Regions from separate parts of the Homo sapiens genome. Here region 1 is linked to region 2. Evidence: fine-mapped expression QTL. A gene starts in region 2. The other region holds a variant in brackets. All regions are shown on one strand. Distances are from middle to middle. Region 1 overlaps APBB2 (amyloid beta precursor protein binding family B member 2). Region 2 holds the start of APBB2 (amyloid beta precursor protein binding family B member 2).

Evidence for each region. PIP is the estimated chance that this variant, and not a neighbour inherited with it, causes the effect.
Region 1: its variant is fine-mapped to the expression of APBB2 in whole blood (TOPMed, PIP 0.91).

What each region holds. Positions count from the first base shown.
Region 1 is chr4:40,851,976-40,862,705 of GRCh38, forward strand. All of the region lies in intron 12 of APBB2 (amyloid beta precursor protein binding family B member 2), which reads right to left. Among named protein-coding and RNA genes, the nearest start is that of NSUN7, 110 kb to the left of the region's middle. RefSeq lists a silencer at 5,145-5,344. The variant C/G (reference allele first, on the strand shown) is at 5,161.
Region 2 is chr4:41,208,082-41,218,811 of GRCh38, forward strand. APBB2 (amyloid beta precursor protein binding family B member 2) reads right to left here and starts at 6,461. Exons shown (of 18, transcript NM_004307.2): 1 at 6,324-6,461. RefSeq lists enhancers at 4,754-4,833, 8,401-9,215, 8,523-8,772 and silencers at 5,836-6,145, 6,556-6,725, 8,343-8,392.

The sequences.
Region 1 (10,730 bases), 360 kb before region 2:
AATTGAAATACATATGGAACAAATTTTATATTTATGAGAGAGTATCAATTGTTGGAACTACAGAGGATGCTGCATGTGAAGTAACTTCAAATGTAATTACGGGGCCGGGCGCAGTGGCTCATGCCTGTAATCCCAGCACTAAGGCCGGTGGATCACTTGAGGTCGGGAGCTCAAAACCAGCCTGGCGAACATAGTGAAACCCCGTCTCTACTAAAAATACAAAAAATTAGTGGGGCATGGTGGTGCATGCCTGTAATCCCATCTATTTGGGAGGCTGAGGCAGGAGAATCGCTTGAACCCGGGAGGCGAAGGCTGCAGGGGGCCGAGATCGTGACACTGCACTCCAGCCTGGGTGACAGAGCAAAACTCTGTCTTCAAAAAAAAAAAAAAAAAAAAGTAATTATGAATGGATTCTTATAAACTGGGAACAAAGGTAGAATAATTCCATATAAATTAAGGCTTAAACCCATCTTCTCTTCTTAGTCTGATTCTTTATTTTCATGCCAGAACAAAGAAAAATGCTCAAAGGTCTCATAACCAGTTGAGAATGACAGAAAGGGTACTGAAGGGTGAAAACATCTTGGAAAAATGGCCAAATACACAAGATTGCACTGGATGGATACGTCTGCTCATCTACACTGGAGAACCAAAGAAAAGAAAGTCAAAGTCTTTTTTTTTTTTCTGAGACAGTGTGTTTCTCTGTCACCCAGGCTGGAGGGCAGTGGCGCGATCTCAGCTCACTGCAACCTCCATCTCCCAGGTTCAAGAGATTCTCGTGCCTCAGCCTCCCTAGTAGCTGGAATTACAGGCATGTGCCACCATGCCCAGGTAATTTTTGTATTTTCAGCAGAGACAAGGTTTTGCCACGTTGCCCAGGCTGGTCTTAAACTCCTAGCCTCAAGTGATCCTTTGGGGACACTCGGCCTCCCAAAGTGCTGGGATTACAGCATGAGCCACCGTGTCTGGCTTAAATCAAGGTCTTGATACAACATAAATGTAAAGGGAGTTGTTCCATGGCTTAATAACTTTGTCCTCGAACAGTTATTACTTCTATTAGCATGTATTTTCTACAGACATAAACAACGCATCAAAGAAATCAGGTATGGTCCTAGATCACACCCCTTCCTGCATCTTCTACAGTCAACTTGGCGAGTTCAACCTCCACATTTCCCCCACCCACCTGCTTCTCTTCATGCCCTCTGCCATGTCACTGATCTCTCCTGGACTAGGGCTAGCCAACTGGTCCCTCGTTTTCCACTCCTGTTCCCAATATCTATTCCCTGAGATCTTTCTGTATGAAATAAACTAGATCATGGCATTCCCCTGGTTAACCCTCTTCACGGGCACCTCATGGCAAACCTTTAAGCACTGCCCACAAGCCCTAAAGGATCCTGTCCCCACCCACCTCTTCCAGCACAAACCACTGGCCTCCTCTTCATCCTCAGGCACGTTGAGTGCTCCACTTCCTCAGTGCTTTCCTTCTTTTTTTTTTTGCGATGGAGTTTCGCTCGTTGTCCAGGCTGGAGTGCAATGGCATGATCTCGGCTCACTGCAACCTCCGCCTCCTGGGTTCAAGTGATTCTCCTGCCTCAGCCTCACGAGCAGCTGGGATTACAGGCACGCACCACCATGTCTGGCTAATTTTTTTTTTTTGTATTTTTAGTAGAGACAGGGTTTCACCATGTTGGTCAGGCTGGTTTTGAACTCCTAACCTCAGGTGATCCACCTGCCTCGACCTCCCAAAGTGCTGGGATTACAGATATGAGCCACCACACCCAGCTGTTCCTCAGTGCTTTCTATTCACTCCCTACATGGCTGGCTTCTTCTCAGCCTTCAAGCCCAGCTCAAATGTTGCCTCCTAGGACAGGCTGCCTCCTGATGGCCCCTTTCCCCTCTGAGCTACTCTGTTGCATCACGCTGTTGATGGTCTTCAAGACACTCGGCATAACCTGTATCATCTTGCTTCCTGAATTGTTTTTCCGGCTTATCTCCTGCCTCTTCAAACAGGGACCTCATCTGTCTCAGTCCTTCATGCTGCCTCACAAGGTGCCTGACACATGGATGCTCCTTATCTGCCGAACAGCATATTAACCATTAGACTATAAATATTAAGCACATGGATGGTCAAAATTAAACCCTAAAAGTAGACAATGAAGTATTTTCATCTACATTCATTCATCTGCCCATTCATCAACTGGGTTATTTATGGAGGGCATCCTATACTAGGTACTATGTTAGGGCCCGAGGAATCCAAAAGTCTAAGAACTCCTCAAATATGTCATATTCTGTGTTCAACACAAGCTCTTTAAAAAGACAAGTTACACTACTACTTAGTATGTTTTTCTGTGATCCTAGAGATTTGTGAAAACCTAGATAAGAGGTTATATGCCATCAGTTTACTCCCAAAAACCCATGAAACGTATATGGAGAGTAAATAGGGACACAGTTAAGTCATCTCTTAACACTCGGGAGCCTGGACAGATGTAAAGCTTTGCTCAGCCAGTGGTACAGAATGAAATTCATTTCCTAGGCCTGGCGCGGTGGCTCACGCCTGTAATCCCAGCACTTTGGGAGGCCGAGATGGACAGATAAGCTAATGCCAGGAGTTTAAGACCAGCCTGGCCAACATGGCGAAACCCTGTCTCTACTAAAAATACAAAAAAATTAGCCATGTGTGGTGGCGGGCGCCTGTAATCCCAGCTACTCGGGAGGCTGAGGCAGGAGAATCGCTTGAATCTGGGAGACACAGGTTGCAGTAAGCCAAGATTACGCCACTGCACTCCAGCCTGGGCGATAAGAGCGAAAGTCCATCTCCAAAAAAAAAAAAAAAAAAAGAAGAAAGAAAAAGAAATTCATTTCCTAGGGGGGCTGTCCAAGAGGAAAGCTGTATAGGTGAGACAAGGAGGCTGCATGACTGATAGTTTTGTAACAAACTGGAATTACCCCATTGAAATCAACAATGCCAATGTTCAAACTCTTTAGAACTCAGCTCTGCCCCTCCTTGCAGCTGCAGGCTCCTTTGAGATCAAAGTAAGCAAGTTCAAGATGACCGACTTTAGTGCCCAATGGCCCACTGGTGTGATTAATACTTCCACCCTTGGAGTGCAGATGACCTGAGGCCCCTCGTTGTTTGCGCCTACTGCCACATGCTCAGCTGACCTCCAAGGCGGCCATCAGCAGCAGTATCTTCTTGTCTCACCTTGGTGTCATCCACACTGCTTCCCAGGGATGCTCCAGTGCAGAGAACCTGCAATGGGCCCCACGCCAGCATAGTGTGAGCTCCAAGAAAGGAAGAAGACACCTGTTGTATTTATTATGCCACTTAATCACCAGCACCAATGCCCAGCACATGGCAAGTGTCCAATAAATACTTATTAAATAAATTATCCCCATTGCAGAAAAGCTAGAACTAAACAACGTGGCGGCTGTTAGAAAAGTGTGTTTCTCACATCTGCAAAGTGAGAATGATAAAATGAGGCCAGGCATGGTGGCTCATGCCTGTAATCCCAGCACTTTGGGAGAACCGAGGCAGGTGGATCACCCAAGGTCAGCAGTTCGAGACCAGCCTGGCCAACATGGTGAAATCCCGTCTCTACTCAAAAAAACAGAAATTAGCCGGGTGTGGTGGTGTGCACTTATAGTCCCAGCTACTCAGGAGGCTGAGGCAGGAGAATCACTTGAACCTGGGAGGCAGAGGTTGCAGTGAGCCGAGATTGTGCCACTGCACTACAGGCTGGGTGACAGAGAGGGACTCTGTCTCAAAAAAAAAAACAAAAAAAAGGAAGCAAAACGGAAAGTAGGGTTCTTACTGAGCTACAAACCATGACACCTTCTTTGATAATACTGGCTGATGCTTTATGGAAAGTCTTTCCCCTCTTAAGCATTTCATTCACACTCCCTTTTACTTATAACTTTTACAAAATTACAGACCACATTTACAAACACATTCTGCTTCTAACTTCTTAGGAAAGGCCTCAGGACACTTAATAATTCCTTTCTGAACTCAACTAACTAAAAGGCAGCAGCAAGGATCTGAACTTTAGAGAGAATCTTACAAACTACTCTTGTGTAAGAGCTCGGCTGGAGGAAGGGCCAACTGCTCAATGGCCTAAGAAAACCTAAAAGAGAACAGCATGAGGAAAGCAGGCAGAACCCCCATTCATGATACAAGTCAAAGCCAGGCTGCAGCTGCAGTTATAAAAAGAAAGAAAAAGACTAATGGGATTGCCCCCTCCTTCCGCCTTCTCCCACCCAAGGCAGTAATGAAGATTCACAGCTACACATTAATTAGGAATCCATAGACGTGCCTGGTTACAATATTGGTATAGGGAAACAGATAATAGAAAAGGCACAGATTCCCCCACAAGCTAATAGAGTGTTGTAAGCAATATTTAAATCTTCACGCCTTTCTTTTCAAAAACACTACTTCTTTCTCAATGCCAAGAGCTGGCTGCGTTTCTACATTTGGGGAATTTGAGATATTTTCTCGCATGGAAGTCACACCAATATCCTAAATCGTGTAACTAAAATCATTTGGAAATGCACAGTTTTTCTACACGAAAGGATATTGCTTTTAATCCAAATACTGGATTACCAAAACCCTGAAATATCTTTCAGTCCTAATGTAGACAGGAAGACAGAAATGTGGCCTCACCAGGGGGCACGTGAGGCGAAGGCAGTCACTGCCTCAATCATAGAACGCTGTCCACGGCAGAAATGCCCCGTGCAGACCCCATCAATGAATAGCCCACCCCGAACAGTCCTGCTGCACTGGCGAATTGGGGGTCCAAGGACGCCTCCCCCCCATTTCATACAAGCCTCACTCCTTCTTCCCACCGGCGGGGCAGAAAGCCCCCTCTTCAGCCCTTCCAGCCGTCCAGGACCAGGCAACTCGCTAAGCGCTGACTCGGGGAAGGGAGGGCGCAGCCTTTGTCCCGCAGGTCTCCCGCGCCCGCCTCGCTGTCCCCGCGAGCGAGCTTGGGCTCGACCCCCGTTCCCCCTGAACGCACCTGCAAACAAAGGAGAGCCGTTCCTTCGCCAACTTCCTCACCTTTGCCTCCCGGTCCTTCCGAAGTCGGGCGGGGATGCCGCCCCAGGTGCTACGACAAGCCCCAGGGTGCCGGCACCAGCCAGCGGTGCCGTCGCTCAAGCAGCCGCGCG[C/G]ACTGCCCCGGGCTCAAGTTGAAGAGAGCGGCGCCCGCGCCTCCCTGCGCCCTCCCTGCCCCGCCCGCCGCGGCCGCCCATTGGCTGCTGGGGAGGCGCGTGGCCCCGCCCCACCCGGCCGCACTCCCGTGAAGTGCTCCCGCTAGGTGCTCCCGCCAGATGCTCCAGCTGCTAGGGGACTGGCTCAGGGCCGGCAAGGAGGATCCCCCACCCCAACATACTCCCTTCCTGTAACGAACGTTTCCTTTTTGGACTCTCAAGACTTAGAAACTTCATTCAAACCCACTGAACCTCTTTAGAAAAAGTTGATGCTCTAGGCCTGCTGGGTTTCTGGTTTCTTTTCTTTTCTTCTTGAGACAGAGTCTCGCTCTGTCGCCCAGGCTGGAGTGCAGTGACACGATCTCGGCTCACTGCAACCTCCGCTTCCCAGGTTCAAGCGATTCTCCTGCCTCAGCCTCCCTAGCAGCTGGGATTACAGGCGCCCGCCACCATGCCTGGCTAATTTTTCCTATTTAGTAGAGATGGGGTTTCACCATGTTGGCCAGGCTGGTCTCAAACTCCTGGCCTCAAGTGAGCCGCCCGCCTCGGCCTCCCAAAGTGCTGGGATTACAGGGGTGAGCCACCGCACCAGGCTGGGTTTCTACGATCCTGATTGTGGGGCGAGTGGGGGAAATGGGGGGCGGGGAGGGGTGGTTGGGGAAGGGAGGTATTGCAGCCCACAGCCAGAAAGCCTTTGGGCAGAAAGACAGAAACCAAATTGTAGTTTTATAAATCTGAATAATCAGATTTCAAGAGGCAGAAAATTCTGAATCGAGCTGGAAAGTGTTTACAGATCATCTGCCAATTTACACAAAGCACTTAGCAGTACACCCCTACACCCTTTTGTAATCCCTACCTCTTTTAAGACACCTTTTGTTTATAGCTGACTTGAAGCCAAGATCCCACAGGCACCCCAACATTGTCATCTCTAGCTGAGCGCCCCTCCCCCCATATACATGGAAGCAGAAAATGTCCAATTGGCTAAGTGACAGCACTTTCAGCACTTTAAGTAAGAGTCCTGGCTAGCCACTAGTCATATAAATATATGAGTTGGAAAGGAAAATCCAAGGTCTCTCACTGACTGTATTCTGTGAGCACTGAAAGTACTTCCTCTTTCTAATTGTTTCTGGGCAAGCGTAAGTTATTTGATTAGCCAATTAACAAAGTGAAATAGGGAGGCTGAGGCAGGAGAATTGCTTGAACCTGGGAGGTGGAGGTTGCAGTGAGCCAAGATCGCGCCACTGCACTCCAGCCTGAGTGACAGAGTGAGAGTCCGTCTCAAAAAAAAAAAAAAAAAAAAAAAAGAGCAAAATAGGCAAAGCATATTAGCCATGTTTTTGGCTATATTCAAAGTCTCATACGCTCCTTTTACAAAGAAAGGAACAGAAAATAGGAAATACACATGGAAAATCAAGGGAGTATTTAACTATAGGTCTTGTTTGGGTTTGGTAAAACACACCACAGGTGTACAGACAACTTTAATGTTCATGTTTAAATGAGGATCAGGTGTTTTCTCATTTGTTCAACATTTACTAAGCTCCTCCTAAGTACCAGGTTCTGTGCAGAAAATTTTATATTATGCTTTTCTAGTTAACAGTTGTCTTTCTAGGGAGGGCAAGATTTAACTCATGCTGTTTCTGAATCTACGATCAGTAACACTTCAATTATTTGGAAGAGTTATTGACAGTAAACTGCTTTGGCAACCACAACTGTCTGGAACACAACACAAACTGCAAGTGAGGCTAGAAGAGGGTTTAAGACTTGGGGTTCAGCAGCCAGAACAGACAGCAGCAAGCTCAGAGATATGAAACAAGTTAACAGGATTGTACCTGTCACCCCTTCAAAGGCTGCCTCTCCTTCCTTACACATCATTCCAGTGAGTTTGGTTGTCTGATTCTCTGTCTATAGCAGGGCAGAAGCAACAAATAGATGGGTCTGCCAGATGTCCACAGGGTACGTCAAGTGTGACAGCTGAGGGTCTGCTGGCAGGAAGTCATGTGTGACAAGTCCTGCCAACTCTGCCTCCTCCTGCTCTCTCCAACTTGCCCCCTTCTCTCAACTCCATGCTGCCACCCTAGTTCCAGCCAACATCTCATCAGGAGGGCTGCTGTCATTTTTTTTTTTTTTTTGAGACAGTGTCTCACTAGTGCAGTGGCCGCTATCTTGGCTCACTGCAACCTCCTCCTCTTGGGTTCAAGTGATCCTCATGCTTCAGAGATGGGGTTTTGCCATGTTGGCCAGGCTGGTCTTGAATTCCTGGCCTCAAGTAATCTGCCCACCTCAGCCTCCCAAAGTGCTGGGATTAGAGGCATGAGCCACCGCACCCGGCCTGCAGTAGTGTTTTAACAGTCTCCTTGCCTCCACTCATCTCTAACAAGCTGTTCTCACAGGAGCCACACCTGTCCCTTCAAAACAAAAACAAAAATCACAAATGCGAGTCCCTTCAAAAACGAAAATCACAAATATGAGTATCCATGCTCGAACCTTAAAACCACACAGTGGCTTCCCACTGCAATGCAGATAAAGTCTATAATCGCTTTCAGGGTCTCACAGGCCGCCTGGGATCAGGTCCCTGCTTCTATCTCCAATGCTGCAACCACATTCCCTCCTCTTTGTCTCTGCTCCAGTCCCCTTTTCTTCTTCCAGTTCCTGGAACACGCCCAGCTACTTCCCACCTCAGAGCCTTTGCACTGACTGTGACCCTCCTAGAATGCTCTTCCCTGCACTGCTCACCTGATGAATCCCTCTCATCTTCTAGGAATCTCAGCCCAAAAGTTGATTCCTTTGGAAGATGTTCCTGACAGGCAGTGTCCTCCCTGACAGCATCCCAGGCTTTTCCTTCGTACTCCTGCTGCAGCTTGGTGTTAAATATTTGGAAAATCATCCATTTATTATTCATCTCCTTCACTTTACAGTGAGCTTTATAAACTTACAGAGTCTGGTTTTGTTTCTGTACAGTGAAGAATTCAACCTTGGCTGAAGAGAGCCTCTGCCTTCAGCTTCTGGGAGGTAAACTCTAACACCTTGGAATGTTGTGCCTGACTGGGGTGTTTCTGTTTGCCTAGTGGCCTTGGGATACACTAGAGGGTCTAATAGGGTGATCTGGGGTGGGCGCTTGGCCCATGCAGTATCAGCTCCACCTCTGGAGGGACTCGAGACTGAGATTAGCCCTGGACCAGTTGTCTATGCCTTTGGGGTGGAGCCTCAATAAAAATCCTGGACACCAAGGCTTGGATGAACTTCCCTGGTTGACAATACTCTGTGCTATTGTCACACGGCAACACCAGGGAAGTTATGCTGCCCAGGACACCGTGGGGAGAGGACAACTGAAGGCTCAGAACTTCCCTGGACTCTGTCCTATGTGTGTCTTCCTTGGGCTGATTTTAATCAGAATCCTTTCCCTGTGACAAACCACAACCATGAGCATAATCACAGCCCTCAGTGAGCTCTATGAGTCCTTCTAGCAAATTATCAAACCTGAGGGTGGTCTCATTGACTATTCTCTAACTTGGCAGTTTCCCGTTGTATTTTCGGCAGTAAGCACATTTCCTGACATACAGTAAGTGCTTAATACATCCACTATTGATTAAATTTAATGTTACTATTTTTTAACCGATTTTTTTATATGACCAGGTAATCAGAATATAATGCTTTTATGATTTAAATAACAAATTTCCATTTTGCAAATGCCTACTTATGAGTTAAGGTCCAGATCAAACAAATGCCATCTCTCCCATGAGGCCTTTCCCTACTTCCCGAGGGCTCGTCACCCTTGCCTTTGTGTTCTCTGGCCCATCACTTTGCTTTCGAAGCATTAAGTAGTAATAAAATGTATTTCTGACCAGCTGGGCAATATAGCGAGACCCCCATATCTACAAAAAATTTTAAACATTAGGCCAGGTGTGGTGGCTCACGCCTGTAATCACAGCATTTTGGGAGGCCGAGGTGGGCGGATCACTTGAGGCCAGGAGTTCGAGACCAGCCTGGCAAACATGGTGGAACCCTGTCTCTACTAAAAATACAAAATTAGCCGGGCGTGGTGGCACGTGCCTGTAATCCCAGTTGCTCAGGAGGCTGAGGCAGGAGAATCACTTGAACTTGGGAGGCAGAGGTTGCAGTGAGCTGAGATCACACCGCTGCACTCCAGCCTGGGTAACAGAATGAGACTCTGTCTCAAAAAAAAAAAATTTTTTTTTTTAAACATTAGCCAGGTGTGGTGGCTTGCACCTGTTGTCCTACCTGCCTGGGAGGCTGAGGCAGAAGGATTGCTTGAGCCCAGGAGTTTGAGGCTGCAGAGAGCTATGATCTTGCCACTGCACTCCAGCCTGGATTATAGAGCGAGATGCTATCTCTAAAATAAATGAATAAATGAATGAATGAATAAAAATAAAACATCTGCTTTTGTGAAGGATATCTATGTTAGATAAACTCTGAGTCCCTACTACTGGGCATGGGGCTTGTACAGAAAAGGTACACAAACGGTGTTTATGGAATGAAGGCAGTTTTTAAAAACAGGTCTGGTTCACAGAAAGACAGGTTCAATTATGTGTGAAATTCTGGTACATATTACAGCTAATTCTCTGATAAATATGGTAGCTGTTACTGTAGTAACTGAGTATTATGAAGGTGTTCTATTGTTTTCTTTTTTCTTTCTAAAAATAAAAATGTTACTCAGGATTATGATACACTTTAAAAAGCCAGACATGCTTTAAATAAAAATATGGAAACTGATCACCCAACTTTTAAAAGGCATCTGACTTCCTAATTAGAATGAAATATCCCAGTTTATTTACAAAATACTGTGAAAGAAAAAAAATTCAACAAACCTAACCACTCATCTTTCTTTCATAGAAACCTAACTGAAAATTCAACCAGGATACCAATAACCTATGATGTCCCCAAGTAGCATAGAAAAATCAATTTTACTTCCTTCAGACCTGCATTTAAACTGGATAATAACTGATATAACGTGCAACAGCCATAATCCAATTTCAATTTGTTTGATTACATGAGTATAAACATTAAACAAGAAAGTCACAGGACTGTTAGGACAATGTTCACGCTATTAACTCATTATAGAACAAAGCATTATAATTTGCTCCTAGAGAACATGCTACTAAAATACATAGATATGAATTTGAACTATCCTTAAATACCATCCACAAAGATCCTTATATTGCCTCAGCCAAAGATAAAAGCAGCTCTGAATGTGGAAGCCACTTCAAAATCTCCTGAATTGAGGATAAGGGAATCCCTGAAGGATTCCTTAAATATTTGAGACTATTTTAACATCCATTTGTATGACACTTGCATAATCAGAGGATTTCAAAGCAGCACCCAGGTTAGTGGTCTCAAACTATAACGTGCATCATAACAGTTAAAATGATGGTGCCGGGCGGGTCCTAGCCGGGCACCGCGGCTCACGCCTGTAATCCCAGAACTTCGGGAGGCCAAGCCGGGTGGATTACGAGGTCAGCAGTTCAAGACCAGCCTGGTCAAGATGGTGAAACCCTGTGTCTACTAAAACTACA
Region 2 (10,730 bases):
ATATTGTGTGGAAACTGAGCTCTGACTTACACGACAGGGACACATCCCATACCTCCAGTAATGCCAGGCCTTCCTTCTTCAACAATGGCATTTCCCTTTACCCTCTGGAATTCCGCAAAGTCTCTCCAATCTATCTCACCCTCTTAAACACACGTTTTTCCTTCTACCTCGATTCCAATATTCTGCATTCTTTTTTTTGAGACAGAGTCTCGCCCTTTCACCCAGGCTGGAGTGCAGTGGCGCGGTCTCAGCTCACAGCAACCTCCACCTCCTGGGTTCAAGCGATTCTCCTGCCTCAGCCTCCTGAGTAGCTGAAATTACAGGCGTGTGCCACCATGCCCGGCTAATTTTTGTATTTTTAGCAGAGACGGGGTTTCACCATGTTGGCCAGGCTGGTCTCAAACTCCCGACCTCAAGTGAGCCACCTGCCTTGGCCTCCGAAAGTGCTAGGATTACAGGCATGAGCCACTGCTCCCGGTTTCTGCATTCTTTTTCATCAACTTAAAAAAAACGACACTCTTCCTCCCACTCTAAGCATTCCTGAAGCATACTTGCCAATGAGTTACACTTCGGGAACTTCAGTTATTACCTAGCAAACAAAGTTTGCAAGATTTCCACAAGAGGAAAAGAGAGGGTAGAACTGGTAAACTTTGTTTATAACCACTGTCAAGTCATTAACCAACAACAAAGAAAAGCTTTAATCCATCCTTTTCTATACCATTCATTTCTTTCCATGTTCTCTTCTCGTATTTGTCCATGTGAATCTGTACATTTTATATATCAATAAATTATATATTGGGATTTTTCTCTGATTATAAAATAAATATACGTCCATTACAGAAAACAAGATAAGATTCAAACACCATGGAAATAAATTATATAGAAAGGGAATATCTCCTGTAACTCTACACACAAAGAGCTCTAATACCTTTAAACTGATCAAGCTTCTTACTTCCTGCCCAGTTGTGTGACTTGACCTTCCACCCTCTATGCCCTTCCTCTCTCCCAGCTCTCATCTAATGTCTGGAGTTAATGACCCACTCCTAACAGGGGTCCAGGAACCCTGGAGCCTGGTTATTAGAGGAACTAGAGTCACTCTCCCTTTATTAAAAATTATTTCAATGGGATAACAACTCCTCACTGACTCACTTAAAGGTTAATGAGGCTGAGTTTTGTGAGCCTCTTGAAAGCAAAATGCACTAAAAACACCAAATGGGATTGGTTTCCTTTGCTCTCTGCCCCATCGCAGCTTGCCAAGAAAAAAGAAAAAAAAGCTCATGATCCTGCTAATGACACTGAGTAGACACATTTCACCAGCCACCACTCCTGCTACTGCAGCAGCCAATCACAGGCATCTGTCCAACACAGTGACAGGGCTAACGTCAAATGAGAGTGAAAGTCGTATTCCAGAGACCAAGGGCTGCATTTCTCATCGAGGCGAGGAGACAAAGGCTGGGACACAGGAAAGGCTTGCCAAAATTTCACAAGGGTGGGCCTGGGAAGCAAAGCACAGGACCCCCTCCCCTGCAGCCTAGGTAGAGGTTTCTTTCTCAGACTATCTGTGTGCTCAAGAGCAGAAAGTCTCCCCGCAGAAAATGCTATGAAGTAGTTTCAAATGTCGAATACACTTTACCCAAATCTAATCATTACCTTATCTGCTAACTAGACTGGCAGGGCCATAAAGTTAATTTTATGACAACCATTTTATAACAAATGAAAACTATAAGGGAAGTAGGAATTGGGCAAAAAAAGAAGGGCATTGGACAAAGCAGTGACAAACCAGACAGGGAAACACAAAATCACCTCCAAATAATGCTCTAAACCAGTGGTCTCCAGACAGCGTTCATGGAAGACAATTTTTCCACGGATGGGGTTGGGGATTGGGATGAAACTGTTCCAACTCAGATCAACAAGCAGTAGATTCTCATAGGGAGTGCACAACCAAGATCCCACACATGTGCAGTTCACAACAGGGTTCACAGTCCTGTGAGAATCAAATGCCACCACTGATCTGACAGAGGTGGAGCTCAGGTGGTAAAGGTCACTTGCCCGCCGCTCACCTCCTGCTCTATGGCCCGGTTCCTAATAGGCCACTGACCAGTTCAGGTCCGAAGCAGGGGGCTGGGGACCCCTGCTCTTAAACGAAGACCTCTCTCCTCGAATGGCTGCATCACAGATCTCTAGACTGGGACAAGAAGGACCCGATAGACAACCAGAGGGTGACTGCAGCTCTCTCATTTTACAGATGGGAAAACAGGCCCAGAGACATAACTGACTTTTTCCAGGTAACACAGTGAATTGAAGTAAGGGACAAGCCAGCCCCAAAGGCAAGTCTTTGGGGTCCCTGGTTAGTAGTCTTTCCTCCAAATCCCCCCAGACCCTTTATTATGGAGAGTCTGTTACTCTGCCTCTGACAAACCATTTCGGCTGAGAGAAATGCCGTCAACACATATCAGCATGCAGAATATGCACTAATAACACATTAAAATCAAAATGGCTAATCTGGGTTTATCTTCTGACATCTAATTTCATTTGTTGGTAGTGCAACATTATTGAAAATAAATGAACACAAAACAGTTTTAAAATCTGGATAGAACCTTCTTGAAAACATTCAAATCATTCTGAAGATATGCAGTTCCAATCAAATTTAATTCTAAATAACAAATCAAAGATGCTTTAAAAGAGAATGCTTACTGAATAATAATGGAATCAATTAAAGATATTTTCATATAAGATAAAAGTTTAAAGCTCTATTGCTGTGAAATCACGAGCATCTACCTTTTCAGAGGGGTTTTCTTAGACAGCTGACATTTATGCATAGATGCTTACAGCATAAGATGATATATACAAAACCTTAATAGGATAATAGGACACATAAAAAGCACTGAACAGACCAGGCGTGATGGCTCACGCCTGTAATCCCAGCACTTTGGGAGACCGAGACTGGTGGACCTCCTGAGGTCAGGACTTGGAGACCAGCCTGGCCAACATGGTGAAACCCCATTTCTACTAAAATTACAAAAATTAGCCAGGCGTGGTGGCGGGCACCTGGAATCCCAGCTACTCAGGAGGCTGAGGCAGGAGAATTACTTGAACCTGGGAGGTGGAGGTTACAGTGAGCCAAGATCGCGCCACTACACTCCAGCCTGGGTGACAGACTGAAACTCTGTCTCAAAAATAATAATAATAATAATAATACTAGGCACTGAACAAATGCTGGTTTCCTAACCCCATGTAGGAAAATAAGTATTCCCCCCATAACCAGTAATAACTTATTACAATATTTTCCTAAAAGTCTGTCCCACCTGCTCCCCTCCCCCGCCCCCGGAAAACTTAAGGTGTTATATCACAAGGGTATTGTCCAGTTTTGTTTTGTTATTTATTTACTTATTTATTTATTTTATTTATGTATTTATTTTGAGACGGAGTCTCACCCTTTTGCCCAGGCTGGAGTGCAGTGGCGCGATCTTGGCTCACTGTAACCTCCACCTCCCAGGTTCAAGTGATTCTCCTGCCTCAGCTTTCCCAGTAGCTGGGATTACAGGCGGGAGCCACCACACCCGGCTAATTTTTGTATTTTTTTAGAGACGGGGGTTTTACCTCTTGGCCAGGCTGGTCTCAAACTCCTGACCTCAAGTGATCTGCCCGCCTCAGCTTCCCAAAGTGCTGTGATTATAGGTGTTAGCCACCGTACCCGGCCAGGTATTGTCTATTTTTAAAATGAAATTGAAAAAGGTACAGAGACACGACATACCATTTTTCTTATTTTTTCCTTCAACTTTTAAGTTCCAGGTACGTGTGCAGGATGTGCAGATTTGTTACACAGGTAAACATGTGCTATGGTGGTTTGATGCACAGATCAACCCATCACCTAGGTATTAAGCCCAGTATCTATTAGCTATTCTTCCTGATGCTCTCCCTTCCATTTTTCTTAAAAGATAAATTTAGATATCCAGTACTCAGGATAGTCCACACACATCATTATTCTAATATTATGACAAGGCTTTCAGTATTCATTCCTGTGGTAACAGAAAAATAAAAGAATTCAATGTTCATATGCTGTTTTTCTGGTGGCAGGAAAAGAAAACAGTCATCAAAAGGTTGAAACATGACAAAAAGTACCAGTTTAAAAATATTTTATGTTTGTACATGTGGATTCTTACAATATATGCAATAGTTTTTTCCCAAGTAATTTTGGAGTCAGTATTCACATTACTCCAGCTAAGTGTAAACACCAGTATTTTGCACTTTAGCTCATCAAGCTTTCTTTTTTTCAGAAACAGGATCTCACTCTGTTGCCCAGGCTGGAGTGCAGTGGCGTGATCATAGCTCACTACAGCCTCAAACTCCTAGGCTCAAGCAATCCTCCCACCTCACCATCCAGCTTTTCAATTACCACTTTATAAAAATTTCAGAAAGCCAGTTCACATTGGCTCCTTGAAGGTGAATTTATTCAGTTAAAAGTATCCATTAGAAGAGGGAATAAAAGCATAGGACCTAAAAACCTTCTGTGGAAAGGATCTCAACTTTAGAGTCGTCTCTCAAAGGCTCTCAGCAAATATCTAGAGACGTGGTTACATCCAGTTTACGAAGACTGTCGGTGACTTCGGGGTCATACAGTACATGGACAACGAAAGAACAGCAATTGAAATCTTGTACTTGTACCCCACCACCTTCCGCCCTATGATCAACCCACTGTACTCTACTGCCACCTGTGTTCTCTCGGCATTTCCCCAGCCTGGAGGTTTCCCCATTCTCGCCACAAATACCATCCTTCACGAACGATGCCATTTCTAGGATGTTGCAAGTTATGATAAACAACTGTTGAACAAATATTGCTTACAAGCTACAAGTTGAAAACGAGAAGGTTGCTACCTAAGTTCATGAAGAAATCCCCTTTCAAGGATTCCATCTGTTCCTAAAAGGCCAGCCACACAAATTCTAATACTCTGCATTATTATGGCCATTTGGGGACAAGATTTTAAATCTGAAACCATGACAAGAAAAAAAAAAAAAGCAAGATTTAAGAGAGTAAACTCCAGAAACAACAGATCAAACTGCCATTGTGTTTGTTTTTTTTAAATCAGTGAAATATTAAAACAAATGATAAACCCATGCCAACCTCACAAAGTTTCCTCATTCCTTGGAATTCAAACACCACCGATGGCATCATTTTATGATAATCCTTTGGGTATTTCACGTAAGTAATTAGACACAATGTAAAGCCAGTGACTGAGGGACTTAAACAAACTGTCCCCTCCGAGAGCCCAGTTGGAGCTTCCGACACTGACCTTATTCTCCTCTCAATTTTAACCCTCCTCAACCACTCAATCCATCCAAAAACGTCTGTGACAGTCGTGGCTCTAAAACCGCGCAGAACTTGACTACAGAACGGTCGGTGACAACTCCACATATGATTTATCCAAATTAATTTATTTTTTTGAATTCTAGTCCCATGCTCCCTCGGCTGTTTGCCCCGAACCCGTAGTCTACACCACTTCACCGACGTGAAGACCACCTTTCATTGTTTCTATGGGTCTCAGCATCCTTCCCTCCGTCCAGCTCTGTTCTCGCCGCACAAATGTCATTTCTAGCGTACCACCCTCCATTCCGCCCGGTGGGCAGCGCAGGGGCTTTCGGGTCCCAGTGGCCAGTTTCCTGGAGTCGGTCCCCTATGCACAGCCATTTTCTAGTTAAACGCTCTCTCTGCCACCGAGGGGGAAAAGGAACTTTTCCCCCCTTTCATGTCTCATGGGCTGGCCTCTGAACCCCTCGTGGAGAAGCCAACCCCGGCTCCAACTCCCCGGCAGGAGCGCGCTGCCGCCCAGGAGAGACAGCCGAGCGGCACAGCGGAGGCCGGTGCCAGGACAAGGGGGTGTGCGCTCTTCCCGCAGGCGCCCACCCTCACTTTTCCCCTCTGCAGTCCCCACCCGGGCGCACCGCCTCCAACCCGGTCTCCCCCGCCCCAGGCCCTGCCAAGCCGGGGCTGCTGAGGGAAAGAGGGCGCCGGGAAGCGGGAGGGATGGAAGTCAAGGAGAGTGAGCCCGCAGTCGCCGTGCCACTGGCCCTGCGGCGCGGGCGCAGGGCGCACGGGACTCCGCAGCAGGCGCCCCGCTGCAGATGCCGCGGCAGCTGCTGCAGGTGTGGCTGCGGCTGAGCGGGCAGCAGTGGCCGCGGAGCCCCGGGGCCGGGAGCAGAGGAGAAGCCGCCGGGGGAACCCGCAGCCGCTCGCCGCACGCTGCTGCCGCTACCCGGGTGTTTCCCCAGCACTCTCGTGCTGCCCCGGAATCCGGGGCAAAGGCAAGGAAGAAAGCTGGGCTCACCAGTGGTGCGCGCGGCGCTCGCCTCGGCTCCGGCGCCCAGCGGCTCTGCTCCAGTCTCGCCCTTCCCGGAGCGCCCAGATCAGATGCGGTTACAGCGCACTAGCTTCCTACTTGAGACCAGAACGGGCTCCGGCAACTGAGCATGCTCAGTGCCGTTCCGCGAGTCCCGCGCAGGGAGCGGCGCTGACGAGATTCCACTTCTCCAGGCTTTGGCAGCGGCTGCGCGAGGGAAGGCTGGAGGGACCCGGCGGGGAGGGGGCCGAATGGGAGAAAGGCGGGGCCGGGGGGTGGGGGCCGGGCAGAAGGAGGCGGGCCGCGCTCCCAGGGCGACCCCTGCAGGTGGAGGCGGCAGGGCCTGCGGGAGGCACCCTCCCCAATCGCCTGGGAACACGCAGGGAGGCAATGGGTCCCCCAGTAAGACCCAAAGGCAGGACGTGCAGTGCAGCCCGGGTATCCCCTCCGTGTGGCTGGTGTCTGTCTGCACCAAAAGGCAGTTGGGTTACCTTAGCCCTGGCTTTTCTCCCACACGCCAGCATTCCCTTGCAATAGGAAAATGTCCCCACAGGAGAGCTGCCCACACCCACCCAGGCTAACTGCAAGTTGTAGGCGACACCTTCTCCTTCCTTCTACCTCCTATCCCCACCCCCAGGCATATGCCGCACACACACTCTTCTTTGATCCGGAAATCACAAGATAATATCAGGGGAGAGATACAACTGCCGGAGAGGAAAAGGAGGTTTTCCTTTCCATTGCCAATAATATTATCTATAACTCTAATTGTAAGCGTGCAAACAAAGCCCTGATAAGAGTCGAGTCTCAGTAAACGGTAAACCGTGCTCTGCCCCAGACGCTGTGAATGACATCCCCAAAGTATCCTTAGGATTGCTCTTCACCAGGGCAGCGGTTGTCAAACTGGAGCCTGGATCAGAATCGCCTGGAGGGTTTGCTGAAGTACAAATCCCTGAGTCCCAATCTGTGTCTCTGAATGGGTAGATATGTGGTGGGGCCCAAGCATCTGTATATCTAACAAGTTCCCATGGGATGCTGATGCTGCTGGTGTGAGGACTATACACTTTAGAGAACCCTACCCATACACACACACACACACAGTCCTACCAAGGATCTCGAATTAAAAACTCACGTGATTCTTCCTATGAGGACTCTATGCAGTGGGGTGGGCATTACTTTATTCTTTCCTACATGAGTTTATTAAGGATCCACGAGGTCTTGTACTAGGCCTGAGGATAGTGGTGAATTTAAAAGCCCAGGCCCCTGCTTTCATGGAATTTATAGTCCGGCCGGGTGACAGACACCTATCAAATAATCACTCAAAACGGTTATTTCAAACAGGTAGAGTGCTGGGAGGGAAATGCACAAGGTGCGAATAGAGTGTATAGAGGGACCCTCATGCAGACTCAGTGAGGTTGTTACGAAGGGATGGGAGGGGGGCTGCCTTGTGGAAGGTGGTTTCTGACTTTTGCACTCCAATAACCTCTCCAATTAACAATTATCTCCCTCAGACCGAGCTGGAGGCCAGCAATCATGTCCCTCCTTCCTACAACATAAAAACAATACTGTCACAGAGAAATCCCTATAAATTCATGAAAAGTGTTTACTCTTGGGACTGAGTCTCTGCACCCCAAGATCCACCTAACACGTCCGTGGACCAAGGACAGTCGAGGGCCACAGTAGACCTCTTGGGGAAAATACAGGCTCTCTGAACTGGAGAGCCTGTGGTTCTTAGTCTGTGATCTTCAAGGCCAAAGAGGCAAGGAAACCAGCCCAAGACCACCATTCCCGTCAGGAGCGGAGATCGACCAGCCTCCAACCTTGCAGACGGGTCCTCTTTCCAAGGCACTCTATTCCCGGACCTCACAGCTCCCCTCAGATCCCCGGAACCCGGCCTGGCCACCCCGCTCTCTCTCGGGGGTCCGGGGTAGGTGAGCGGAGCCTGCCCCTCCCAGGTCGGTCTCTTCCCGACGGAGAGGAAAACCCGCGGTGGAGTCCGCGGCGGCGGGGGGGGGGGGGGGGGGGGGGGCGGGGCGGCGCGCGCAGGCGCAGAGGCCGCCAGGTTGGGCCGAGGAGGCGCCCTGCTCCACACCTGATGCAATCAGCCTTCCGGAAACGGGTCCCGCTGCCGCGCTCACCCAGGAAACACTTCCGCGCCCTCCTCTGGCCGCTGAGCTCCCGGGGACGGGTTCCCAAACTCCCCCGGCCCGACTTCGCCACGGGCGGTGTTCTGCGCCCCGTCGGGGATACGCCGGAGAAGTCGGGAAGTCACTGCCTGGGCACACAAAATCCCTGAAATGCCCTGACAGTGACGTCGAAACGGCCACCAAGCGTTGCGCAGCTGCAGGAGGAAATTCCCTTAATTATGAATTTACAGAGGGGACTGATCGGGGCCGGAGGGAAGGCTTTGACCCTTCCCTTGCTTCCTTCCTTCGTCCGCCTCCCAACACATTGTCTCTCTCACTGAAAGGAACGTTTAACAGCAGTTTTAAGGCAGTATGGAGAGGAATCTCCATGCCCTCTGTCTTGCTAAATATGTAACAGCACTTTAGCTTTGCTACATAAAGCTTTCCCACCGCGCGCTCATTTTATAAATACGTAATTGGTTTCTGCATACCTCATCATTTCAGTTTACAAAGAAAATCATTTCTCGTTTCACCACTTCATGCAATTTTTATATCTATTGTGAGTGGGTTTTTTTCTTCATGCTGACTCACCCATTAATTGTTTTCCAAGGAAATGAAATATCCAAGAATATTCCAAGAGCATGTTTTTTAAAGCATGGAAGTAAACGCTGTGAACAGTAGATAAAACTGACCTCTCTTAAGTCCCTTAAGGCCAAAGGTCCTCCTAGGGAGTTGGGGGAAGGAGGCAGATCCAAGGAATTTTATTTGGAAGGATACCTCAAGACCATTCTAGAATCAAATCAAGATCAACTCTTAGACTTTACAGATGACATTTACCTCTCTGTGGCCCAGAGAAATAAATGACTTCTTTATTTAGACAAACCAAAGGCAGAACTGGCACTTGAAGCCAGATTTCTCAAAATTCCAATCTAATGGGGAAAAAAAAATGTTTTTTGCACAAACACCGTAGGGAGTGCAATACTATATTACAATGCAGTTTTACAATCCAAAGATTACAAAATACAAAATAGGTGACAACAAAAGGGATCCTATTACTTGTTCCTGTGACGTCATTAGTCTTTAAATAGTCCATGATCAACAAATATCCAGCCACTTCTAAGTGGCATTGAATAGCCAGAGTCTAGGAATTAAATATTTCAATTAAACAGGTATGAGTCAGGTGCAGTGGCCCAAGCCTGTAGTACCAGCTACTGGGGAGGCTGAGGCAAGAGGGTACATGAGGCTGGACGTTCAAAGTTGCAGTAGGATCTTGCCTGTGAATAGCCACTGCACTCCAGCCTGAGCCACACAGCAAGACCTCATCTCAAAACAAAACAAAAAAAACAGTATAACTACAAAACATCAAGAAATCTTCTGTGCCAACATTAAGAACTTCTAGTATTATTATTTGATTGTGTGGTATATGTGCAACGGTTTGAGCTTAAACCAAGGGAATTTTAATGATCACAACAAAATATCACGGTCATGATTTTCTTCTGTAATGATTTTAAATACTTTAACAATTTAGTAATCAAAGTGAAATAAAAAACAACTCAAAACTCATGCCTGCAATAAGATAAAATCTAATTCTTCAAAACTCTGTCTACCTTCTTATCTTGAGGAATGAATTTCTTTTTGGAATGTTCTGACAGAGATCTGGAGGAACACCTTCTATTGAAGCAAAAATAGAGTTGAGTAAATGTCAAAATGCAGAGGTACAAAATACACACTGTCACACGGTACTAGTTTTAGAATAGCTAACTCTTACTGACTATTTAGCATGTGCCAGATACTGGCTAAGCATTTTCCATAGGTTATTTAACTCAATCCTCACAACTACCCTATAAATGAAGCACTATTATTATCCCTATTTTATGGATAGGGAAAGTGAGGCTTGCAAATGTGAAGCAGCTAACTCAAGGCACAAAATATTCATTGGCAGAACTGGGATTTGAACCCAGGCAGTTTTCCTGGAGCTTGAGCTCTTAAATAATACTATGTATGGAAAAATGTAAATACAGAGAAAATGACTATAATGATTCTCAGATAAGAAAGGAGAGGGAGTATTGTACTTACTCTCCTAAAGATAAAACATAGTAAAATAAGTTTGTAGTCCACACTAGGAAAAAACCTTTTGCTAGCTAATAAATTATGGTCCCCAAATATAGGACCAATATTACCCAGAGGTATGAGGCAGATGATCAAATATCGAGTGATTTTTCAGGGGTACCAGCAAGGCCTCTTCTCTGATGAACCCTCTACGCCTGACTGG